Homo sapiens: one gene and its partners. The protein of the gene in region 4 purifies or fractionates together with the protein of the main gene of each other region. This does not show direct contact. Each region holds a gene or a part of one and is shown on either strand. Other genes may lie near its edges.

Region 1 (3,500 bases), 7.9 Mb from region 4:
CCAAGAGTAGATTAATCCCACTCAGTATTTTCAGATGCATCTGGTGTTATTTCAGTTCCAGTTTGTTGAATCTTGGTGCATCTGACTTGTCCCTTTCTAAACTAGTGACTTGCCCTCTCGGTACATAGATGTGGTCACCCTTCATTGGCATCTGGAGATTTTCTTTGCATGTGATTTAGGTTGGGTTCCCTTTTTCCGGTGTCTCATGCCTTTCTCCTTATTTATTCTCTTATTTTGGTACATCTTCCAGTAGCTTCCTGAGAAGAGGGTTTGTGGATTGTTAATTTTTCATGACCTTGCAGGCCTGAAGATGTCTTCATTCTACCCTCTCACTTGATTAAAATAGTTTGGCTGGGTAGAGAATCCTGAGTTGCCATGGTTCTCCTTAAGATTTTTTAAAAGGACATTTCTTCATTGTGCTGTGACTTCGAGCATGGCTGTTGAGTTTTCATGAACATTTTGAGTTCTGATCTTTTCTGATTTGTGATCTATTTTTCTCCTCTTTGTGGAAGCTTGTATCCTATTCTCTTTCTCTCTAGCATTCTGGTGTAATTTGAAGATAGTCATGTGATTTGAAGTTTTCATGTGTGATGCTGGGCCCCTGTCAATTCTAGGAGCTCCCATCCTTTAGTTCTGGGAAAATTTCTTGAATGATTTTGTTACTGATTTTTTTCCCCTCCCATATGCTGTGTTCTCTATTTTGGAACTCCTATTCAGTCATTCAACAAATGTTGAGTGAGATTCTACTATTTAACATGCACTATTCTAGGCACTGGGATATTTCAGTGAATAAATTAGTTTAGAAAAAAAAAATTCCTGCCTGAGAGGCATTCTAGTAGGAAGACATCAGACAATATTATATGATATGTTAGAAGGTTTGTGTGAATGCATTTATTATATGTGTTTCTCTGGCTACTTACAGCAGCATAGGGGCAGGCATGGAGTGGGTAGAGAGCTAGATTTTACTAGGACAGTATTAATGGGGCAGGAGAGGTGAGGGAGTATGTAAGAAAATGATTATAATGATGGACCTTGAAATTAAACTGGATGAAGAGGATTCGGGAGATATTCAGGAACACATCAAGGTATAGTAGAAAGAAGATGTAATCTGTAGATTAGTGGTACCAGTGTGGTTGAAGGGTTGTTGGAATTCGGGTCTAGAGAGAATGACCTGGAAAGATGAGGAATAGTGGTTAGAGAGAGGATACATGGAACTAAATTGTGTAGGGATTACAATTGTCTAATGATGAGATCTGGTATATGACTGTGGGAGTGAGTAGCTGAGGGCAAGAAGGGATAGATAGCAAGATCCTTGGAAGGGAGGTGGGTTAGTCCATTTTTTGCTTCGCTATAAAGGAATACCTGAGGCTGGGTAATTTATAAAGAAAAGATGTTTGACTGGGCACAGCAGCTCATGCCTGTAATCCCAGCACTTTTGGAGGCTGAGGCAGGTGGTTGAGGTCAGGAGTTGAGACCAGCCTGGCCAACATGGTGAAACCCCAACTCTACTAAAAATATACAAAAATTAGCCGGGCATGGTGGTGGGTGCCTGTAGTCCCAGCTACTTGGGAAGCTGAGGCAGGAGGGAGGTGGAGGCTGCAGTGAGCCAAGATTGCGCCACTGCACTCCAGCCTTGGGTGGCAGAGTGAGACTTTGTCTCAAAAAAAAAAAAAAGGAAAAAAGAAAAAGAAAAAGAAAAGAGGTTTAAACTGGCTCATGGTTCTGCAAGCTGTAGAGGAAGTATGTTGTCAGCATCTGCTCAGCTTCTGAGCTCAGTTTCCTGAGGCCTCAGGCCAGGCTGGTCTTGAACTCCTGACCTTAGGTGATCCACCCACCTCGTCCTCCCAAAGTGCTGGGATTACAGGCATGAGCCACCGCGCCCAGCCAGCCTCAGGAAACTTCTCATCACGGCGGAAGGTGAAGGGGCAGCAGGCACGTCATATCTCGAGCGGAAGCCAGAGAGAGTGGGGAGGTAACATACACTCTTAAACAACCAGATCTTGTGTGAACTACCAGAGCGAGAACTCACTCATCACCAAGGGAATGGTGCAAAGCTATTCATGAGGGATCTGCCCCATGACCCAGATACCTCCTGCCAGGCCCCACCTTCAGCACTGGGGAATACATTTCAACATGAGATTTGGAGGGGACAGACATCCAAACCGTAAGAGGAGATATACCAGAAATTGAGAGATCATTTGTAAGGGAGATCCTCTACTTAGATGTACATTGAAATTGCCAAAAATTAAGACAGGAATAGTCTAGAGGGAGTGCAAGTTGGGAGCTATTTAATAAATGGTGATGAAGGAATGGGATTTTGGCAATGATAAGTAGTTAGTGTATATAATTTGAAGAGACGAGATTAAGACCTGGGACTTTTAGGGAAGATGGAGGGAAAATACCAGCAAGGAAAGCAAGAGGACACCTATTCCATTTCTAGATTCAGTGGTAGGAAGCTGTGGAAGTACAAAAAAAAAAAGGGCCGGGCATGGTGGCTCATGTCTGTAATCCCAGCACTTGGGGAGGCCAAGGTGGGTGGATGACTTGAGGTCAGGAGTTCAAGACCAGCCTGGCCAACATGACGAAACCCCATCTACTAAAAATACAAAAATTGGACGTGGTGGCATGCACCTGGAATCCCAGCTACTCGGGGGGCTGAGGCAGGAAAATCGCTTGAACCCGGGAGGCGGAGGTTGCAGTGAGCTGAGATCATGCCACTGCACTCCAGTCTGGGCCACAGAGCGAGACCCTGTCTCAAACAAACAAACAAAACAAAACAAAACAAAACAAAAACAGTGTTTGAGAGAGCTGCAGAAGCAGCAGGAGAGGGTTATCAGAGCACGAGGGTAAAGGGGGGATGCTCAGAAAAGACTGAGGACAGAGGGTGTTTGCTGATGATGGACTGATAATTCTAGAGGGCCCAGTGGAAAAGTTTCAGGCATTGGGAAAGGTTAGGAGATGAAGGTTAGTGGTCGTACAGACCCTTGTGAGGAAGACTGCAGAGGAAGGATATGACCCTTTGTGAGATGCACATAAATAGGAATGATGGAGATACTGAGATTTGTCCTGGTTCCCTCAAGGCAGCTAATGATGGTGACCCTGTGTGTTGAAAGGGCAGAGGTGCCTGGGAAGTATAGAGTTAGTCCCAATATAGAGCTTACCCTTTTCCCATTGGGGAGTGGCAAACTTAATCTTAGTGCAGAGGCCTCCCTTTGACCCCTGTTGGTGGAGTTAAGGACAGCTGGGGAAGCCATCTCTATGTATCCAATTATTATTATTATTATTTTTTTTTTTTTTGAGACAGAGTCTCGCTCTGTCACCAGGCTGGAGTGCAGTGATGTGATCTCCACTCACTGCAACCTCCACCTACCAGGTTCAAATGATTCTCCTGCCTCAGCCTCTGGAGTAGTTGGGACTACATGCGCGTGCCACCATGCCCCACTAATTTTTGTAGTTTTAGTAGAGATGGGGTTTCACCATGTTGGCCAGGATGGCCTCGA
Region 2 (3,183 bases), on a different chromosome or scaffold from region 4:
CTTCATCCATCTCCAGCACAATCGGCTGAAAGAGGATGCTGTTTCAGCTGCTTTTAAAGGTCTTAAATCACTCGAATACCTTGACTTGAGCTTCAATCAGATAGCCAGACTGCCTTCTGGTCTCCCTGTCTCTCTTCTAACTCTCTACTTAGACAACAATAAGATCAGCAACATCCCTGATGAGTATTTCAAGCGTTTTAATGCATTGCAGTATCTGCGTTTATCTCACAACGAACTGGCTGATAGTGGAATACCTGGAAATTCTTTCAATGTGTCATCCCTGGTTGAGCTGGATCTGTCCTATAACAAGCTTAAAAACATACCAACTGTCAATGAAAACCTTGAAAACTATTACCTGGAGGTCAATCAACTTGAGAGTAAGTAAAAAGCTGTTCCTGTGTTTGATGTGTGCTCAAGTGTTTAAATACCTGGGCTGCACAACACAGATATTGCATCTGGCTCCATTAAAAAAACAAAATGTCGCCCGGGCGCTGTGGCTCATTCCTGTAAATCCAGCATTTTGGGAGGCCGAAGTGGGCGGATCACCAGGTCAGGAGTTGAGACCAGCCTGGCCAACATGATGAAACCCCATCTCTACTAAAAATACAAAAATTAGCCAGGCGTGGTGTCGCACTTCTGTAATCCCAGCTACTCAGGAGGCTGAGCCAGGAGAATTGCTTGAACCTGGGAGATAGAGGTTGCAGTGAGCCGAGATCGTGCCACTGTACTCAAGCCTGGGCAAGACAGCCAGATTCTGTCTTGGAAAAAAAAAAAATGTCCACAAAATATCCCTCTACTTCAAACAAAGAATAATTCTAGCTCAATCATATATCCAATATCCAGCCTTTCTTTGGTGTATCCAGATAAGGAACAATTAAGGTCACAGAATTTAATATGTAAGTCTTCAAACTAAAAATTCCGGGCCAACTCATCCTGCTGTGTTACCTCCTCATATATATCTCTTATTATTTTCTCCTTTATGGCTTAGATTTGTGTCCTACATTTATTTTTTGACAAGATCTAGATGAGGGAGGAAGAAATGAGTTCAAAAGTGGCACAGTTGGCAAACTCCATAGCCACAAAGAAGCCCATATTGTCCCTCCCTCCCTCCCTCTCTCTCTCTTTTTCTTTCTTCCTTCCTTTCTTTCCCTTTCTTTCTTTCTTTCTTTCTTTCTTTCTTTCTTTCTTTCTTTCTTTCTTTCTTTCTCTTTCTTTCTTTCTTTCTTTCTTTCTTTCTTTCTTTCTTTCTTTCTTTCCTTTCTTTCTTTCTTCTTTCTCTCTTTCTTTCTTTCTTTTTCTTTCCTTCTTTCTTTCTTTCGTTTTCTTTCTTTCTTTCTTTCTTTTTTTTTTTGACAGGGTCTCACTCTGTCGCCCAGACTGGAGTGAGGTGGTGCAATCTCGGCTCATTGCAACCTCCACCCCCCAGGCTCAGGCGATTCTCCCACCTCAGGCCACCACCACCACCAGGCTAATTTTTATGTTTTTAGTAGAGATGGGGTTTCACCATGTTAACCAGGCTGTTCTTAAAATCCTGACCTCAACTGATCCATCTGCCTTGGCCTCCCAAAGTACTGGGATTACAGGCGTGAGCCACTGTGCCTGGCCCCATATAGTCTCATGGTCTTCCCTGACATCAACTACTTGGGACTCACCATGTTACTCTGCTGTCATGATCATCATCTGCCTCTGTTATCTCTGTTATGGTGTGTGGCCATCACAGTGCTCTGGAGGACTGTGAAGAAGATTAAAGAGAAAAAGAAATATGATGGGAGATTCTAACATCTTTTTTTTTTTTTTTTTTTTTAGAAGAAAAATAGTGTTACAGAGCTTTTTTTTTCTTGGGTACAATCCTGCCCCTCATTTGATATTTCCACACTTTCTCTTTCTCCTCTCTTTATTTTTCATTTATCTTCTGGATGAAGTTTGATCTGATGCATTTGGACTGCTTATGCACTTATGTGGTCTTCAGGGACATTCTTCAACTTAAGCAGTATAGATTCCAATGGGAAATTGAAATCCACCATTTCCTACCAGGATAACTCTGCCATTAATCTTTGGCAGAGCTTGGTAGAAGAGAAAAACCATGATTCACAGATAAGGCTTTCTAAATGAAAAAATCAAGCAGGAAACATTGATTCACATATAAAGTAATAATGTCTGCAAAATAATCTATTGAATTTGAACATCTCTACATGATGAAAATTGGTTTTCTGGCCATGCTGAATAAAGGTATTGCTGTCAGAAAATATTACAATATATTTTATGCATATGATGTTTGTTAATTCTGCCAGTTTCATATAACCTCTAGTAGGGTTAAACGTTTTCATAAAGAAGACCATACTCGCCAACTCTGAAGCTCCACATGTTCTTTGTTGTTTCTGAAAAGCAGCCAAGGTAAGGGTTGGTGCTGTTTGACTGTCACACAATACACAGTCAGGCTAACACAGCTAAACCCCTCTTGTTGTTTCCAGTGGAAAATTCACTATGTGGCCATATGTGATTCCTCATTTTAAACATATGTGGTTAGGAGGAAGGATACTCTCTGACAGACCAAAATGCTAAAGGAATTTACGATGCTTAAGGGATGACGGAGTACATTAGATTTGGTGGGTAGAGATTATTCGTAAGAGCAGGGCTACTTCTTTCTCTGAAACAAAGAAGGATACAGAAGTAGGCACATTTGAAGGTATACATTGCATGAGTAAAGGATGGAAGAGAGGTCTATGGGAGAAAGGCCAACGGCCTGTCAGTGCCAAGCTGAGATAGAAACCACAGTGCCCAGTACATAGTGGTCATTTGAAAAGGTAACATAATAGTTTCCTTTCTTTCTTCCTTATCTTTGTACATTTAGTCAGGTATTCTCCTTGTCTTTTTATGTATCACCTCAGTTTAGGTTATTTTGCCAGATAATAATCAACTATATCAACATTTCACATTCACTTAATACAGAAAGTTCCCCTCAATGTTTTTTTCTAATATTAGGGAATATATAGCCAAAACAAACTGTTTTCTATTTCAAACTTGCAACTCTAAGCATTAGCCCAATCAGAGATCTTCCTAGTGTAGAGTAATTTAGAAAGACAGCAAAATCAAAAGGATATTAGTCATTATTTAGGACATACTATGTACTAGTATTGTGTGAAGTGCTCTACACAACTTAATTTAATCTTCATGCAACACGGT
Region 3 (3,422 bases), on a different chromosome or scaffold from region 4:
CTCCCGGGTTCAAGCGATTCGCCTGCCTCAGCCTCCCGAGTAGCTGGGATTACAGGCATGTGCCACCACACCTGGCTAATTTTGTATTTTTAGTAGAGACTGGGTCTCTCCGTGTTGGTCAGACTGGTCCTGAGCTCCTGACCCCAGGTGATCTGCCTGCCTCAGCCTCCCAAAGTGCTGGGATTACAGGCATGAGCCACCGCACCCAGCCTACATATCCATTTTGTAAGAGTGTCACTGTGGCAAAACCCCAACTGGTAAATGAACCTATTATTTCACCTATGTTTCTCTTATGCTAAATACAATGAACATAAAAGACTTAAGAGCCTTCTTCAGGAAGACATTTTTGGAACAGAATTATAAATATTTTGGGTAATAAGTTGCTAGAATTTTTTAAATAAAAATAGAGAGTATAATACTTCTCTCACCAACATAAACAAAATTAGAGAAACAGAAGAAAGAAAAAGCATTGAGGAAAGATAATTTTAAGAAAGTGCAGATTGAATTCGAATTAATTTTATTTTATAAGGAATTTAGAAAACATGAGCAAATATTCATATTGCATTAAAAAAACAAAGTCTATATATCATTCAAATTTTAAAAGTCAGTGTGACACTAAAAAATGTACTAACAAAGTAATATGTTTCATTTTAGAACAAAATTTTATCAGTGGCTCATCACAACTGATATACAAACAAAATGCTAAAATGATGTAAAACTGAATCTCAAAGTGATCCAGTTGGATGAAGGGAGCACCAATTATCATCGATGTGGGACTGCCATATACTCTACCAAAGAAAACAAACTACCATTAGGTGATAAAGATGAGCAAATAAATAAACTAGAGGGAGGGAATGAGCCCACAATTTCTGAAATTTTACAGTAAGTGGTTTATTTGTTTCTGTTGTTACATGTCTTTTGTCTGTTTTCTTCCTTCAAGAAATTAAGTGGATGTGTGAAGGATCCAAGAATATTTCCCAGGTATATCTTACTTTTTCAGGAAGAATAACTTTATACTGAAGAAATAATGATTAATACTCCCTATCACTTCAGCCACTGAATATACTATTAAAATTATTTGTTTTTACAACTATAGTATGCTTTTATTTATTTATTTTTAAACTGTAAGTCAATAATATTTAAAGAATGAAAGTCTCTTCATTTAAGAAATATACAGTCATCCTTTGGTATGAGAGGGGGACTGATTGCAGGACACCCCTTAAACCCCTCCTCTATACCAAAATCCATGGATGTTCAAGCCTCTTATATGAAATGGCTTGCTATATGCATATAACCGATGCACATCCTCCTGTATACTTTAACCGCCTGTATACTGTAACCTTTAAATTACTTAAAATACCTAACACAATGTAAATGTTATAGTAAAACTTTTACAGCTGTTAAACTGTATTTTTAAAATTTTACATTCTTTTTTTCTTTTTTTTTTTTTTTCTATTTTTGATCTGTGGTTGGTTTAATCTGTGGGTTTGAAACCCTTGGATATAAAAGACTGACTTTATTTAACTCCTGAAAAAAATTCCTTTTTTGAAAAGTGACAATAACATGAAGTTAATACATCAGGAGTCTTGAAAAGAATATTAGGTAATCCAATTATAACAATTTAAATTAGAATATTCAGGAACTGTATCTTGAAGGCTCAAAAATACTATTTATTTATTTATTTATTTATTTTTGAGATAGTCTCACTCTGTCGCCCAGGCTGGAGTGCAATGGTGTTATCTTGGCTCAGATTCTTCTGCCTCAGCCTCCTGAGTAGCTGGGATTACAGCCACCCACCACCATGCCGACTAATTTTTGTATTTTTAGTAGAGACAGGGTTTCACCATGTTGACCAGGCTAGTCTTGAACTCCTGACCTCAAGTGATCTGCCCACCTCGGCCTCCCAAATTGCTGGGATACAGGTGTGAGTCACTGCGCCCAGCCTCAAAAACACAATTTATGATTCCTTGTGAATTAAATTTCACTAAGATGAAGCACATCTAAGTTTAAAACTTGGGTACCATTATGTTTTACAATTTTTAAGAAAGAAAATTCACAACCTACTCAATAATCCTGAAGAAAAATCAGATTAAAAGTAGTAGGATATTTGTACATACAACATGTATAGATATATAAATAAACACTTTCTAGAAGGAAAAGGTATCATATTTAGTATTTATAGGCTACACTCTTTCTTTTAAGGAAGATTATAAAAGAGGGGCTAGGTATGGAGCCAGAAGTTGTGAGGGAAACCTCAAAGTAGTAAATACTATAACTCTTTGTAGAGTTTTACACTCAGTGTAAAGAAATGCAAAAAAATCCTTATACTATTAAATCTTTACTTGTATAAAAACCGAAATTAGTCCAACTACTTTTTGCCCATTTATGATGATAAAAATTGAAACAAAAACTCTCAACCCATTTTGTAAGACTTCTATTATAACATTCTTAAATCCAGTTCATATTGTTCCAGAGTCATGTAACATCAAGGTGGGGACACAAAATATGATAGTGAATTTTACCTTTTCTTAGGAAATGATCACAATTTCATTGAAAGTACAGGATAAAGTGAATAGCCCCTTAACGACTTGTGTACTTTATTGTCTTCAATAGAAAGTTCAAATATTTCCATTTTTTAAACCTCTAGAATATTATCCGGACATTTAAAATATTGATATTTGAGTTTACATTAAAGGACATCATACTCTGAAAACAGGCTGGCTTTAAATATAGTTTGACTGATTGTGGGGGTACTTACGGACAGATTTCTTTACCAAGTACCAGTTTCTTATATTTAAAAAAAATCAGCAAGATAGAATTTAAAAAATCTTCATTTACAATACATTGTAAACTGCAGACAGCAACTGCCACATACATCATAGACCAGCACAGGTAAAAATCTTTTTTCCGGATGTCTATAAGACTTTGTATCTTCCTTTATTTGTTGGTTGGTATGAATTTTGCTGTAATAGGAAATAAAAGATATGTCATCAGAGAAAGCAAAACAAAAAAAACAAAAAAAAAAAACGAACCAACCAACCAACCAAACAAACCCAAAAGGAAATATTTAAGATCATTTCCTTTGCCAACTTATAAAACTATTGGTTATTTAAAATTTTAAATGTTACTATTACTGCATTGAGAAAGGAAAAACTATTCAATAACTAATGAATTCTCTGTTCACTCAACTATTCCTTAACAACTATGTTTTGAATCAACCTAATGGTGGTAGCATCTATGGGCACAAGATTCTTTTCGACCACTCCTTGGTGAAATAGTATTAAGCACATGATTTAACAGCTGTTTTACTTTTTCCCTCTTGTTTTGTGAACCCACTTTTCATTAAACTTCTAACCACCCCCACCCCCCAACAAAAAAAGGAATGCTCTGTGAGGGGAATTTTAGAAAAGCTCTCAGAATTA
Region 4 (3,500 bases):
CCTTCTGTACCCCCATGCAATTACACTCACTGATGATAACCAGCATCTTAAAAGAATAGATTACTTTTGTACTTGATATAAATGGTATCATATACTATGTTCTGTTTTGTGTCTGCCTCATTCACTAAGCATTGTGTTTTGAGAGATCTGTGTTGCTGCCTTAGTCATAGCTTGCTTTTTGCTGTATGGTGTTCCATTGTGTGACTTTGTCCAGTCTGCTGTTTATCCAGTCTACTGTCCAGTCTGCTGTTGTTTATCAGTCTACTGTTGATGGCCATCTGGTTCATTTCCAGTTTGAGGCTATTACAAATAGGGATGGGCATCATGAACATTTTGTGCATGTCTTTGGTGCACATATTTCTCTATTTCTGTTAGGGAGGAGTGTTCTGGGTTATAGGGTATGGCTATCTTTAGTTACGGTAGATGCTGCCAGTTTCACAAAGTGTTTTACCAGTTAACACTTCCACCAGCAGTGTATGTAAGAGTTCCGGGTTGTTTCACATTTTTGTCAACTCTTGCTTTTTTTTTTTGAGATGGAGTCTCACTCTGTCTCCCAGGCTGGACTGCAGTGGCGTGATCTCAGTTCACTGCAACCTCCACTTCCCAGGTTCAAGCGATTCTCTTACCTCAGCCTCCCAAGTAGCTGGGATTACAGGTGTGCACCACCACACCCAGCTAATTTTTGTATTTTTAGTAGAGATGGGGTTTCACCATCTTGGCCAGGCTGGTCTCGAACTCCTGACCTCAGGTGATCCTCCCGCCTTGGCCTCTGAAAGTACTGGGATTACAGGCATGAGCCACCATGCCTGGCGTTTTTTTTTTTTTGTTTTTTTTTTTAATAGTTATTTTGGTTGTGCCTTGGTATCACAGTGTAGTTTTAATTTGCATTTTTAATAGATATTTAAATTGAGCACCTTTTCTTGGTTTATTGGCTACTCAGACAGCCTCTTTTATGAAGACATCCAAATATATTCTACGTTTGAGTCTTTTGTCCATTTTTCTGTTGGGCTGTCTTTTTTTTGTTTAATAGGAATTCTTTATGTAATCTGTCAGGTAGTATTTTATCTCCCCAGATTATATTTTTAGTTTTTAAATGATGTCTTCTGATATACAGAAGTTCATGATGTTATAATTGAATATGTAACTTTTTTCTCTTTCTGTATCCTGTTCAAGAAATAGTTGTCTACTCCAAGGTCATGCAGATGTTTTTTTCTAAATGCTTTATTGTCTTGTCTTTTATTTTTTATATCTATGGTCTATTTGGTATGGCTTCGTGTGTGTGGTGTGAGGTAGGGATTGAGATTCTTTTTTTTCCATTGGGATATCTGATTGACCCAGCATCATTTTCTAAAAGATGCCTTTCCTCATTGCACTGCGGCGCCTCCTGTGTGCTTTTGACAGGGATGACAGGGATGAGGATGATAAAGAATAGGCATAGCGTGTCTTTCTCTTGTGAGACACAGGGATTCCAACTCCTATTCTCAATCTTAAAAAGAAGTTATTTTTCCTCCTCCAAGTGGGAATTTTACTAGTGCTTCTGCTTCCAGGATACCAAGGGTTCGAGTTTTGGAGGATGAAGAGGGGTCGAAGGACATTGAATTGTCAGATGACCCTTATGACTGCATACGACTAAGTGTGGAGAATGTCCCCTGCATTGTCACTCTGTGCAAGGTATAACTTGTATTTTATGGTTTTTGTCTTCCCTGTGGGTGTGGGTCTCCTCTAATCCCAACCTGCTGAGGTTACTTAATAAGTTAAGAAGTTGTAATACCACACACCATATAGAAGTAGCTTTTACCCAAATCCAATAATTTGGTTATACTAGAAACCACTACCACGAGTAGCTCTTTCTTTTCTTTTTAATTGGAAGATATGATGTGGTCCTGGGAGCCATGAGTGTGTTTGTAGTAATAGTAGCCAGAGTTTGTTAAGCTCCTTCCACATACCATGTGCTTCACTAAAGCACCATGTCTTTTAATTACCTCAACTCTATGGGGTCTAGGGTGGTTGAGTAGTGGCAGGGTGGCGAACACTGTCCCCCCTATGAAATGGGAGGTTGGAGCAGGTCTTGGGTATCATGAGTGGTTTTCACATAGAGGGCTGTGGAGCTGAACATCAGGCTGATGTGATATATAACTAATGCTGCCCCAGGCTGTGCAAAGAGGCCTGTATTGGCTATTGACTGGGATTGTAGCTAATTCCACTCAGGATTCATTATCTCAAAATAAAGCTAAACAGGTCAGGTTTAATTCCACTGAAATCACTTCATGAACAGGATGTGGTGAAGTGTTCAGACAACAGGATGGCAGGATGTTGGGTCTTGGCTTTTTTTTTTTTTTTTTTTTTTTTTTTTTGAGACAGTCTTGCTGCAACGCCCAGGCTGGAGTGCAATGGCGCGATCTCAGCTCACTGCAACCTCCGCCTCCCAGGTTCAAGCAATTCTTCTGCCTCAGCCTCCCAAATAGCTGGGATTACAGGCACGTGCCATCATGCCTGGCTAATTTTTGTATTTTTAGTAGAGACGGTGTTTCACCATGTTGGCCAGGCTGGTCTCAAACTCCTGACCTCGGGTGATCTGCCCACCTCAGCCTCCCAAAGTGCCGGGATTACAGGCATAAGCCACCGCACCTAGCCGGCTTGTTCTTTCTTGTTGTTTATTTGTTTTTTTTTTTTTTTTTTTTTTTGAGACAGAGTCTCGCTCTGTCGCCCAGGCCGGACTGCGGACTGCAGTGGTGCAATCTCGGCTCACTGTAAGCTCCGCTTCCTGGGTTCACGCCATTCTCCTGCCTCAGCCTCCCGAGTAGCTGGGACTACAGGCGCCCGCCACCGCGCCTGGCTAATTTTTTGTATTTTTAGTAGAGACGGGGTTTCACCTTGTTAGCCAGGATGGTCTCGATCTCCTGACCTCATGATCTGCCCGCCTCGGCCTCCCAAAGTGCTGGGATTACAGGCGTGAGCCACCGCGCCCGGCCTTGTTTTGAGACAGTGTTGCTCTGTTGCCCAGGCTGGAGTGCAGTAGCACAATCTAGGCTCACTGCAACCTCTGCTGCAACCCCCCCACCCGCCCCGGCTCAACCTCAAGCAACCCTTCCACCTCAGCCTCCCAAGTAGCTGGTACCACAGGCTCACACCACCATATCTGGCTATTTTTTTGTATTTTTGGTGGAGACAGGGTCTTGCCATGTTGCCTGGGCTGGTCTCAAACTCCTGAGCTCAAGCATTCCATTTTCCTCAGCTTCCCAAAGTGCTGGGAGGCATGAGCCGCTGCGCCCAGCCTTTGGCTTGTTCTTGAGTGTGTCCCTTAGCATGGACCCTCTTGATTCCCCCTTGCCATCAGTGAAACGTCCATGTGGCCTTGTGTGTGAATTTCTCCCTTGTGCCCCTCTGTTGGAAAGCCTTGGTGGCCTTTGTCTTGGTTGGTCTCTGAATTCTAGTTTTAAACCACCTTGCCCTGTTTTTCCATATCGTGTTTTTATTGTACCACCCACACAGTGGCCTGT
Region 5 (3,500 bases), on a different chromosome or scaffold from region 4:
TTCAAGTAATTACCACTTTTCTAAAGCTTCTGTCTTGAAGCCATTTTTATGAAGTAAAATTAATTTGTCACTTGTTCCCCTCTGAATATGATCATGAAAGCTTGAAAATTCATTCTTAAGAAATTCTTATTGCCCAAGTAACTGTATTTGAGAAAAATGAATTACCATCTAAAATGTAACTATTTCTTTTTAAAGAACTTAGTAATTGCTGTTCTTTAGTATTATATTTTCCCTTCTACTGATAAAGTAAACTTAGCAGGCTTGCATTCTTTTATGAACTGCCAGAATAAATAAGAATATGTTACAGTCAGACTAAATAGTGCGACCAGTGATAAGAAAAAAGGGCAGCACTGATTATGGCTGAATAATTATTAGAAGGCAGGCATGGCAAAGAAGCAGTGGTAGAAAGTGAAGTGTCTTCAGTCAGAAAATAAAGAAATGATCGAAGTAGGAGTAGAATTAAGAAGTCCAGAATCTTAGCAACATAAAGTTGAAGCTGTTATATTTTTTTATAGTAGACTTCGTAGCAGCTGCTATGGGAAATGCCTGCAAGGCCAAAGACACTGAGAAGCTTCTTGCAACTCAGACAGTCTTTTATGCGGGGATAAAAAAAAAAAATGGAAGAAAGGGGAAAATTTAGGCATGACATAGAATGGGCTGTTCTGTGTTTCGCAATGAGAACACATTGTTAAATACACCTGAAAAACAACCGTATAATTTGCTTTTGATTCTCTTGGGCTATATTTTAGGTATCAAATAGCATTTCTAAGCTGTTTTAAATGCTGCCATCTTTTAAAATGTTTTTATATTTTTATGTTTTGTATTTCAGCTATGAAGACGGCCAAGTGGGAGATGCAAATATTAATACACAAGAAGGAGGCATTCACAAAGAGATCCTCCGAGTAATTGGTAATCAAACTGCTACTGGTTAAAGGACCACCATTTAATTAACATGATTCGAAAGCCTTCCTCGGGTTCAAAGCTGGATTTTGAACTGAAGAAGATTATAAAATTATTTATTGTTATTATAAACAAAATTAACCCTTTGAATACTGATTTTTTTTCTTAGTATTTCTAAGTATCTCATTAAATACCTAAAATGGTATAAGATTTATCAATTGTAGGGTTATGGAATCTAGTAATAAAATTTCAACAGCACTTAAACTGAAGTTTGGGTTGCTCATACAATAAACAGATTGAAAAAACTGTTTTGTGCTGATATTTTTATACTAAACTCTTTAACTGGATATTTGGTATTATATACCGACATTTTAGGTTACCAAAATAGAATTGAGAACATTTTATAATGGCATCTAAATCTATCAGATACTTTGCAATAAGTATACTGTTTGCACATTCTGATGTGCTATATCATTAGTAGTATGGGCATTCTAATGTTTTGGAAGGGGTGTTCCCTATTCTATTTTTCTTCATAAAAAAAGAAGTAGGTCTTAGAAGCAGTGCTTTGCCAAAAAGTATGTAATATACACATCTATACATTCATGCATCAAAATGTGTGGTTGTGAATATATTTGTGTATATTCACACGTATGTTTTGACAAGAAAGATGGCTTAGCTTCACAATTCTATCCTCGTTTAATGGAAAGAAGATAATATTTAGTAAGCAATAAATTTGGACATAAATCAAGATATGAGCCAGATTTACCACCATTCATTCACTGAAAATATTTGCAGACAATTTTTCTGTTTGTCTGAAGAAATTCAGCCCTTTTAAAATGTTATCTAAAAGTCATAATTTGGGGAACATACATGGCCTGGTAGACCGAATCTATATTCAAATGATTATGTATTTAAAAGAAAGACCTCAGAATTTAAAGAAACCATATATATTTTTTATTTACTACAAAAAAATTATACAATTTTATTTATGCCACACCAGCATTTTTATATTTGTTCATCTAATATCTCTGCTTATTTTTTTCATATTGAGAAAGAACACAAACTTGATGCTTCTTTTATATTAAAAGACCACAAATAAGTTTATAGAGAACAGTAACACCAGCTCTCAGCATTTCCTTTTCAAGAGTCATAATTTCATCAAAATCATTTCTTATTCTTTGAGTCCTAGAGTTCTTATTCATCAAGTTTTAATTGACAGTGTTTATTTTCCCACATGTTGTCTTTGGAATAAGGCCATTCATGAAAGCAGTTTAATTAGTGAGTCTGCCACTCTATTCAAACCCTGAATCAAGGCTCTATCTGATTTTAATTTATGTAAAAAAAAATAAAAATGTATAGTCATTTGCAAGTATAATGTGATAACTGCTGTGTTTATTTCCTTTGTCTGGCATAAAAGGTGAGAAAAAGGTCATACATGTTGTTAAGGGTAGCAGTTTAGGAAGTGTTTTCTAATAATTTGTTTTGTTATATTGCAAATAATTGATATGCCACTTATTTCTGCAAGAAAAATAGGCTTGAAGTGGTTGGGATATTAATCATTTTGATAGTATCTACTTAAAGCATTGATCTGTTTTGACTTGTGGCTCTGAACCCTGGGCTAGGCTGAGGGATAATAGTAGTGGAGTAGGGCAAAGATATAATATCCTATCCAGTGTTTTGTGACCACTTATTTGAAGATTAGTGTGGGACATGAGGACCTTGCTACTTTTTTGCCAAGATGCTGCAAGTCTCCCAAATCACTTCAACTGTGTTTTTAAAACATGTTTAAGCAACAGAATTATTTTTTTGAAATTAGTCTATACGTTAGACAGTCTATACATGACAAACATGAAGATCTAATATCAAGATTTGGGAGACGGGATCTTGGAACTCCACCTGTTTGACCACTAGGACCACTGAGGCACCTCCAATAAGCTCTGTAGAGTGCCTCCAGCATAATTCAAAATCCACTGACCTAATCCATTATGGCTTTACTTAACATTGGAGTGATCCGTAAAGAATATAGTATTGGAGTCTGAACTGGAACGGTAACTCGTAAGACTCAAGAAAGACCGTTTAAGGAAAATTGGCATAATACAAACTGTTCCTGTTGACTTAAGAATAACAGTAGGTTCACCTATCTGAGGAAATTAAGTAGTTGATAGTTTAATGCTAGGCATCTTTTATGATAATAAAGTAAGATGTCTTCTTATGACAGTTAATTGAGTTGTATCATGATACAGAATGACAGATTTTGTTTCAAACAATTGCGTCAGAACCTTTGTAAGCAAATATTCTAAGGAGAATCAATCTTATTTTTTAATTGAACTTTTTGAAATTAGGGATACTATAATAACTGATAAAGATGAATTTCTGTGTTTCTAAAGAATCTAATTTCAATTACTACCATTAACATATAAATGTGCTTCCAAAATCCAAGCAGGTCCATACAATTTAGAGATTTGAACACTGTTATCATGCTTTAATTCAGTCATTCATTAAAATATTATCTATTCACTTATTTGATGATTCCAAACATTTGATATTGTATTGTGTTTTTATAATTATTTGAAATCTGTTCACCAATGCTTTGTAATGGT
Region 6 (3,500 bases), about 110 Mb from region 4:
AGCCTGGCCTTGGTTTAGTTTTCATACCATATAATCTGATGATATTTGGAAAGATTCTAAGACCCTTAATACCTTAATTAGTACTGATCCAATCACTAAGTTATGAACCAGTCATATGACTGTTCAAGAGAAATAACATTTTAATTTATCTCTGTTTGCTTCCAGGAAACAGTGAGACAGTAAAAATCAGATGATTCTTTAGAATCTAGAAGGTTTTTCCTTAATGCTCATAATAAAAATTTTTATAGCAGTGATCTTTGATTATATTTTATTTCAGACGCAGGCATCGATCAAGCAGTAGCTCTTCTTATGGCTCCAGAAGGAAACGAAGTCGAAGTCGTTCAAGGGGTCGAGGGAAATCCTATAGAGTTCAGAGGTCTAGGTCAAAAAGCAGAACAAGAAGGTATGCCTTATTAAGTATTTATTGCTTTGTAACAAATTATTCCCAAATTCAGCGATGTAAAGCAACAATCATTTATTTTCTTATAATTATATAATTTTGATTGAGCTTAGCTGGCACTTATTTTTTTCTCACCTGGGGTCATTCATGCAGTTAGTCATCTGATAGCTTGATTGGAACTGGATGGTCTAATGTGGCCTCACTCATATATCTTGCATTTGGTTCTGGCTATTGGCCGGGGTGTACGTGGCTTCTCATTGTCCAGTAGGCTAGATTGGGTTTCTTTTTTTCAGCCCGGTGGTGGTAGCACGTGCGTTCCCCAGACATGAGTTTACTAGTATTTTGTTAAGGATTTTTGCGTCAGTATTCATCAGGGACTTATGGCTTGCAGTTTTCTTGTAATATATTTGTCTGGCATTGGTATCAGAGTAATGCTGGCCTGATAAAATGAGTTTGGAAGTACTCCCTCCTTTTCAGTTTTTTTGGAAGATTTTGAAAAGGATTGACATTAATTTCTTTTTAAATGTTTGGTGGAATTCTGCAGTGAAGCTATCTGCTCCTGGGCTTTTCTTTGTTAGAAGGTTTTTGCTTACTGATTCAATCTCCTTGTTAGTTATACGTCTGTTAAGATTTTCTCTTCCTTCATGATTCAGTCTTGGTAGGTGGTATGTTTCTAGGAATTTATCCACTTTTTCTAGGTTATCCAGTTTATTAGCATTCTTAGTAGTCTTTTATAATCCTTTCAATGTTTGTGGCATCAACTGTAATGTCTGCTGTTTCATTTCTGATTTTAGTTATTACGCTTCTGGTATTTTTTCTTTTTCTTTCTTTCTTTTTTTTTTTTTTTGGAGGTGAGGTGTTGCTCTGTCACCTAGGCTTGGGTGTATTGGTGCAGTCAGCTCACTGCAGCCTCAAACTCCTGGGCTCAATGATCTTCTCACCTCAGTCTCCTAAGTGGCTAGAAATACAAGCATACACCACCAGGCCTGGCTGACTTTTTAAAATATGTTTTGTAGAAATCAGTCTTACCATATTGCCCAGGCTAGTCTCCAACTCCTGGTGTCAACTGGTCCTCCCACCTTATCCTTCCAAAGTGCTGGCATTATAGGTATGATCTACCTTGCCCGGCCTCATTTTTTCTTAATCTAACTAAGTACTTGTTAATTTTGTTGTTGTTTTTCAAAAAACTCTTAGTTTTGTTGATTTTTTTCTAAAGTCTTTCTGTTCTCTATTTTATTTATTTTTTTCTCTAATCATTTTTATTTTCTTTCTTTGGATAATTTTTGGTTTAATTTGTTCTTTATTTAGTTCCTTGAAGTATTAAGTATGATATGAGACTTTTCTTTTTTTCTTAAATGTAGGTGTTCATGCTAAAACTTTCCTTTCAGTATTGCTTTTGCTGTTTCTCTTAAGTTTTACTATGTGTGTTTGTGTTTTCATTTGTTTAAAGGTATTTTCTAATTTCTCTTATGATTTCTTCTTTGGTGTATTTGGTTGTTCAAGAGTGTGTAGTTTAATTTCTACATATTTGTGGATTTTCTGATTTTTCTACTGCTATTGATGTCTAGTTTCATTTCTTTGTGTTTCGAAAAGATACTTGCTATGATTTCGGTCTTATTAAATTTGTTAAGACTTGTTTTGTGGCCTAACATGAAATCTGTCGTGGAGAATGTTCCATGTACACTTGAGAAGAATGCATATTTTGCTGCTGTTGTGTGGAGTGTTCTGTGTATTTATGTTAGGTCTAATTCATCTGTAGTGTTGTTCAGGTCCTCTTATGTCTTATTTTTCTGTCCATTATTGAAAGTGGATTATTGAAATACCCTACTATTACTATGTTACTAAATACTTCTCCCTTCCATTCTGGCAATGTTTACTTTATATATTTGAGTGCTCTGGTGTTAGGTGCATATATATATAATTGTTATATATTCCAGAATAATGACCCATTTATCATTATATAATTTTCTTTTTTTCTTGTGACAGTCTTTGACTTAAAGTCTATTTTGTCTTGTGTAAGTATGGCCACTTCTGCTCTTTTTTTGTACCATTTGTATGGATTATCTTTTTCATCTTTTTCAGTATATGTGTGTCTTTACATCTAAGGCACATCTTTTGTAAACAGCATATACTGTAATTGTATTTTGTGTGTATGAGTGTGTGTTTTGAAAAATTCATTCAGCTACTTTTGTGTGTTTTGTTTGGGGAGTTTAATCCAGTTACATTTACAATAATTACTGATGGGGAAGGACTTACTGTTGCCATTTTGTTGATTGTTTTCTGCCTTATAGCTATTTTGTCTCTCATGTCTCCTGCTGCCTTCCTTTTTGTTTTGTTGATTTTTGTATTGACATGCTATGATTTTTTTTCTGATTTTATTTTGTATATGTTCTATAGGTATTTTCTTTGTGGTTGCCATGAGGCTTACACAAAACATTGTCTTTTAAGTTGGTAATAACCTTTGACTTTATACAAAAATACTGCTCTTGTATGTTTCTCCACTTCTATTTTATGTTATTGATATCACAGTTTACATCTTATTGTATCCATTAATATAGCTTATAGTTAGTTATTTTTTATACTGTCATCTTTTCAATTCTATATCTGAATTAAAAATGTTTTACATACCACCATTACAGTGTTAGTGTACTCTGTACTTGTGTATATATTTACCTTTACCAGTGAGCTTTATGTTTTCATGTACTTTTGTGTTGCTGTCTAGTGTCATTTCATTTCCACTTGCAGGACTCCTCTTAGTATTTCTTGTAAGGCAGGTCTGGTAGTGAAGAACTCCCTTAGCTTTTGTTTATCTGGGAAAGATTTGATTTGTCTTTTGTTCTTGTAGAACAATTTTGCTTGATATAGTGTTCTTGATTGACAGGGTTTTTTTTGTTTTTGTTTTTGTTTTTGTTTTTGTTTTTGTTTTTGTTTTTTGCTTTCAGCACTTTGAATATATCACCTGATTCCTTTCTGGCTTGTAATGTTTCCTCTGCAAAATTGCTGAAATCTTATGAAAGCTCCCTTGTGTATGACGATTTACTTTTCTCTTGCTGCTTTCAAGATTCTCTCTTTGCCTTTAACTTTTGTTAATTAGATTATA
Region 7 (3,500 bases), on a different chromosome or scaffold from region 4:
TTTATCATACTGACAAACTTCCCTTCTGTTCCTAGTTTGCTGAGAATTTTTGTAATGAATAGTGATTGGATTTTGTCAGTTTTTTCTGCATCCATTGAAATGATCATATTTTAGTCTTATTCTGTTGACTTGGTGAATTACAGTGATTGATTTTTTCTTTTTTTTTTTTTTTTTGAGACGGAGTCTTGCTCTGTCGCCCAGGCTGGAGTGCAGTGGCGTGATCTCGGCTCACTGCAAGCTCCACCTCCCAGGTTCACGCCATTCTCCTGCCTCAGCCTCCCGAGTAGCTGGGACTACAGGCGCCCGCCACCACGCCCGGCTAATTTTTTGTATTTTTTAGTAGAGACAGGGTTTCACCGTGTTAGCCAGGATGGTCTCGATCTCCTGACCTCGTGATCCGCCTGCCTCAGCCTCTCAAAGTGCTGGGATTACAGGCATGAGCCACTGTGCCCAGCCAGTGATTGATTTTTCTAATGTTAAACCAACCTTTCTGGGATAAACCCCACTTGATCATGATGCTTTATTGTTTTTATATATTATTGAATTTGATTTGCTAATATTTCCTAAAGGATATTAGTATCTGTGTTTATGAGGAATATTGTTCTTACACTTTTCTTCTCTTGTGATGTCTTTGTCAGGCTTTGTTATAAGGATTATACTAGCCTCATAAAATAGGCTGGAAAATGTTCCTTCCTCTGTTTACTGAAAGATTTTGTTTAATATTGGTATTATTTCTTGCTTGTTTGCTAAAATTTGTCTTTTCTTTAGCTCTATTTCTGCTAATTTTTTTTAAACTTTGTTATTGGATACAAGCATATGTATTATGATGAGTTAACTCATCTTGTCATGATAAATTGTCCCTCTTCATCTCTGCTAAGACTCCTTGACTTGAAGTCTATTTGAATGATTCATTTTTAATCTAGCTAATGTTTATTTGGTCATTTCTTTCTGTCATTTTCGGCCTTTGTATTTAAAGTGTGACTTTGTGGACAGCATATAATGGGTCTTGCTTTTTTAACTAGCTTGACAATCTTTTAGTTGGAATGCTTAGTCCATTTACATTTAATGTAAGTATTGATGTGATTAGATTTAGGTCTGCCATTTTACCATTTGTTTTCTGTTTGTCTTACATATTTTCTTGTTCCTCTGTTCCCCCTTCACTGGCTTCTTTCAGGTTAATGGAATACTTTTTAGTATTCCATTTTAATACCTTTGTTGGCCTTTTAGCTTTACTCTTGTGTGTTTGTGTTGGGGGGGGAGGGTGTGTGTGAGAGATTACGTTATGCAGTTTTACCTTATCACATTCTATTTAGAGTTAATATTATACTTCATGTAAAATCCTGGAATATTACAAAAGTATAGTTCTGTTACCCCAGCCTTTGTGCTATTATACATACATTATAAACCTCACAATACTGTGTCATAGTTTTTGCTTTAAAGAGTTATATGTGTTTCATTTCATTTCCTTTGGATATATACCTGGAAGTGGTATTGCTAGTTCATACAGTAGTTCTGTTCTTAACTTTTTGAGGAACCTCCTCCGTACAATTTTCCATAATAGCTGCACCAGCCAGGTGCTGTGGCTCACGTCTGTAATCCCAGCACTTTGGAAGGCTGAGACGAGTGGATCACGAGGTCAGGAGTTCAAGACCAGCATGGCCAACATGGTGAAACCCCGTCTCTACTAAAATTACAAAAATTAGCTGGGCCTGGTGGCGGGCGTCTGTAATCCCAGCTACTCGGGAGGCTGAGGCAGGAGAATGGCTTGAACCCAGGAGGCCGATGTTGTGGTGAGCCGAGATCACGCCACTGCACTTCAGTCTGGGCGACAGAGTGAGACTGAGTCTCAAAAAAAAAAAAAAATAGCTGCACCAGTTTACATTCCCACCAGTAGTATGCAAGAGTTGCCTTCTCTTAAGAGGCTGAGGCAGGAGAATTGCTTGAACCTGGGAGGCAGAGGTTGCAGTGAGCCGAGATCACACCACTGCATGCCAGCCTGGGCGACAAAGCGAGACTCCATCTCAAAAAAAAAAAAAAGAGTTGCCTTCTCTTCTACTAATTAATTAATAGAAAAATATGTTTACCATTTTTCTTGTTCTCAGTCTTTCTTGTAGATCAAAATCCATTTGATGTTTTTTCCCTTTTGGCCTAAAAACTTCCTTTTAACATTTGTTATAGGTGTACTGCTGACAGATACACTTAGATTTCATGTATATGAAAATGTTTTTGTCTTGCCTTCATTTTTGAAGAATACTACTGCTGGATATAGAACTTTGGGTTGACAGTGTTGCCGTGGTTTTGCTTTGGTTTATTTTAAATTCATCACTTTAAGGACATTGTTCTATTGTCTTCTGGCCTCCATTTTCTCAGTTAGTGTCATTTATATCATTCTTGTCTATGTAAATTGTCATTTGTTTTTCTTCTGCTTACACTGCTTACAAAATTTTCTCTTTATTTTTGTTCATGCTGCGCATAGATGTGGTTTTCTTAGTATTTATCTTATTTATCTTGTTTGGGGTTTGCTGAGTTTCTTAAATTTGTACTTTTTTTAACCAAGTTTGAAAATTCTTGGCTGTTATTTTTTCAACAAAGATTTTATGCCCATTTTTCACTTGTTATTTTACTTAATGTTGGCCCACAGGTCACTGAGGTCTTGTTCAATTTTCTTCAATCTTTCTTCTGTGTGTTCTTTAAATTAGATCATTTCTATTGACTTATCTTCACGTTCACTGATTCTTTTTTCTCTTTTTTTCTTTTCTTTTTCTTTTTTTTTTTCTTTTTTTTTTTTTTTTTTTTTTTTTTTTGTGACAGGGGTCTTAGCTCTGTCACCGAGGCTGGATTGCAATAATGTGATCATAGCTCACTGCAGCCTCAACCTCCCAGGCTCAAGTTATCCTCCCACCTTAGCCCCCTGAGCAGCTGGGACTACAGGTGTGTGCCACCACACCCAGCTAATTTTTTTTTATTTTTTGTAGAGACAGGGTCTCACTGTGTTGCTCAGGTTGGTCCTGAACTCCTGGGCTCAAGTGATCCTTACACTTCAGCCTCCCAAAGTGTTGGGATTACAGGTGTGAGCCACCATACCTGGCCTGATTCTTTTTTCATCTCCAATCTCTGTTTGCCTATGCAACAAATTTTTCATCGTAATCACTGTTGTTTTTAGTTATAGAATTTCCATTGCCTTCTTTTTAATAGTTTCCATTGTTCTGAGATTCTCAATTTGTTCATTCACTGTCACTGTATATTTTCCTTTACATCCTTGAGCATATTTATGATACATCTGTGAGGTCCTCGTGTGCTGACTTCTTTGTATTTTATGTTTGGTAATTTTTTATTGTATGCTTAACATCATAATAGAGACATAGAGAGTAGGGATTCTGTTACATATCTATGAAGAAAAATTAATTTTCTTCTGGCCTGCAGTTAACCTGGCTGGGCTCAAACTCAACTCTGTCTCCCCTACATTGGGCAGCAAAATCTCTGCTCAGTTTTTTTAGCTT

The links.
Region 1: the proteins of EXOSC7 (region 4) and LRRFIP2 fractionate together in Homo sapiens (co-fractionation; one large-scale study listed by BioGRID). This does not show direct contact.
Region 2: the proteins of EXOSC7 (region 4) and LUM purify together in Homo sapiens (affinity purification with mass spectrometry, with the first as the bait; one large-scale study listed by BioGRID). This does not show direct contact.
Region 3: the proteins of EXOSC7 (region 4) and DDX46 fractionate together in Homo sapiens (co-fractionation; one large-scale study listed by BioGRID). This does not show direct contact.
Region 5: the proteins of EXOSC7 (region 4) and PARP8 purify together in Homo sapiens (affinity purification with mass spectrometry; one large-scale study listed by BioGRID and IntAct). This does not show direct contact.
Region 6: the proteins of EXOSC7 (region 4) and RSRC1 purify together in Homo sapiens (affinity purification with mass spectrometry, with the first as the bait; one large-scale study listed by BioGRID). This does not show direct contact.
Region 7: the proteins of EXOSC7 (region 4) and USP30 purify together in Homo sapiens (affinity purification with mass spectrometry; 3 studies listed by BioGRID and IntAct, with this or other methods). This does not show direct contact.

What each region holds. Positions count from the first base shown.
Region 1 is NC_000003.12:37,059,583-37,063,082, reverse strand, and holds part of LRRFIP2 (leucine-rich repeat flightless-interacting protein 2), read left to right. Parts: intron 1-3,500. UniProt on the Homo sapiens protein: May function as activator of the canonical Wnt signaling pathway, in association with DVL3, upstream of CTNNB1/beta-catenin.
Region 2 is NC_000012.12:91,105,312-91,108,494, reverse strand, and holds part of LUM (lumican precursor), read left to right. Parts: coding exon 1-377; intron 378-3,183.
Region 3 is NC_000005.10:134,828,200-134,831,621, reverse strand, and holds the end of DDX46 (probable ATP-dependent RNA helicase DDX46), read right to left. Parts: intron 2,964-3,422; coding exon 2,916-2,963; 3' UTR 501-2,915; downstream 1-500. UniProt on the Homo sapiens protein: Component of the 17S U2 SnRNP complex of the spliceosome, a large ribonucleoprotein complex that removes introns from transcribed pre-mRNAs.
Region 4 is NC_000003.12:45,003,744-45,007,243, forward strand, and holds part of EXOSC7 (exosome complex component RRP42), read left to right. Parts: intron 1-1,547; coding exon 1,548-1,671; intron 1,672-3,500. UniProt on the Homo sapiens protein: Non-catalytic component of the RNA exosome complex which has 3'->5' exoribonuclease activity and participates in a multitude of cellular RNA processing and degradation events.
Region 5 is NC_000005.10:50,841,137-50,844,636, forward strand, and holds part of PARP8 (protein mono-ADP-ribosyltransferase PARP8), read left to right. Parts: intron 1-829; coding exon 830-932; 3' UTR 933-3,500. UniProt on the Homo sapiens protein: Mono-ADP-ribosyltransferase that mediates mono-ADP-ribosylation of target proteins.
Region 6 is NC_000003.12:158,123,589-158,127,088, forward strand, and holds part of RSRC1 (serine/Arginine-related protein 53), read left to right. Parts: intron 1-277; coding exon 278-403; intron 404-3,500. UniProt on the Homo sapiens protein: Has a role in alternative splicing and transcription regulation. Involved in both constitutive and alternative pre-mRNA splicing. May have a role in the recognition of the 3' splice site during the second step of splicing.
Region 7 is NC_000012.12:109,076,576-109,080,075, forward strand, and holds part of USP30 (ubiquitin carboxyl-terminal hydrolase 30), read left to right. Parts: intron 1-3,500. UniProt on the Homo sapiens protein: Deubiquitinating enzyme tethered to the mitochondrial outer membrane that acts as a key inhibitor of mitophagy by counteracting the action of parkin (PRKN): hydrolyzes ubiquitin attached by parkin on target proteins, such as RHOT1/MIRO1 and TOMM20, thereby blocking parkin's ability to drive mitophagy.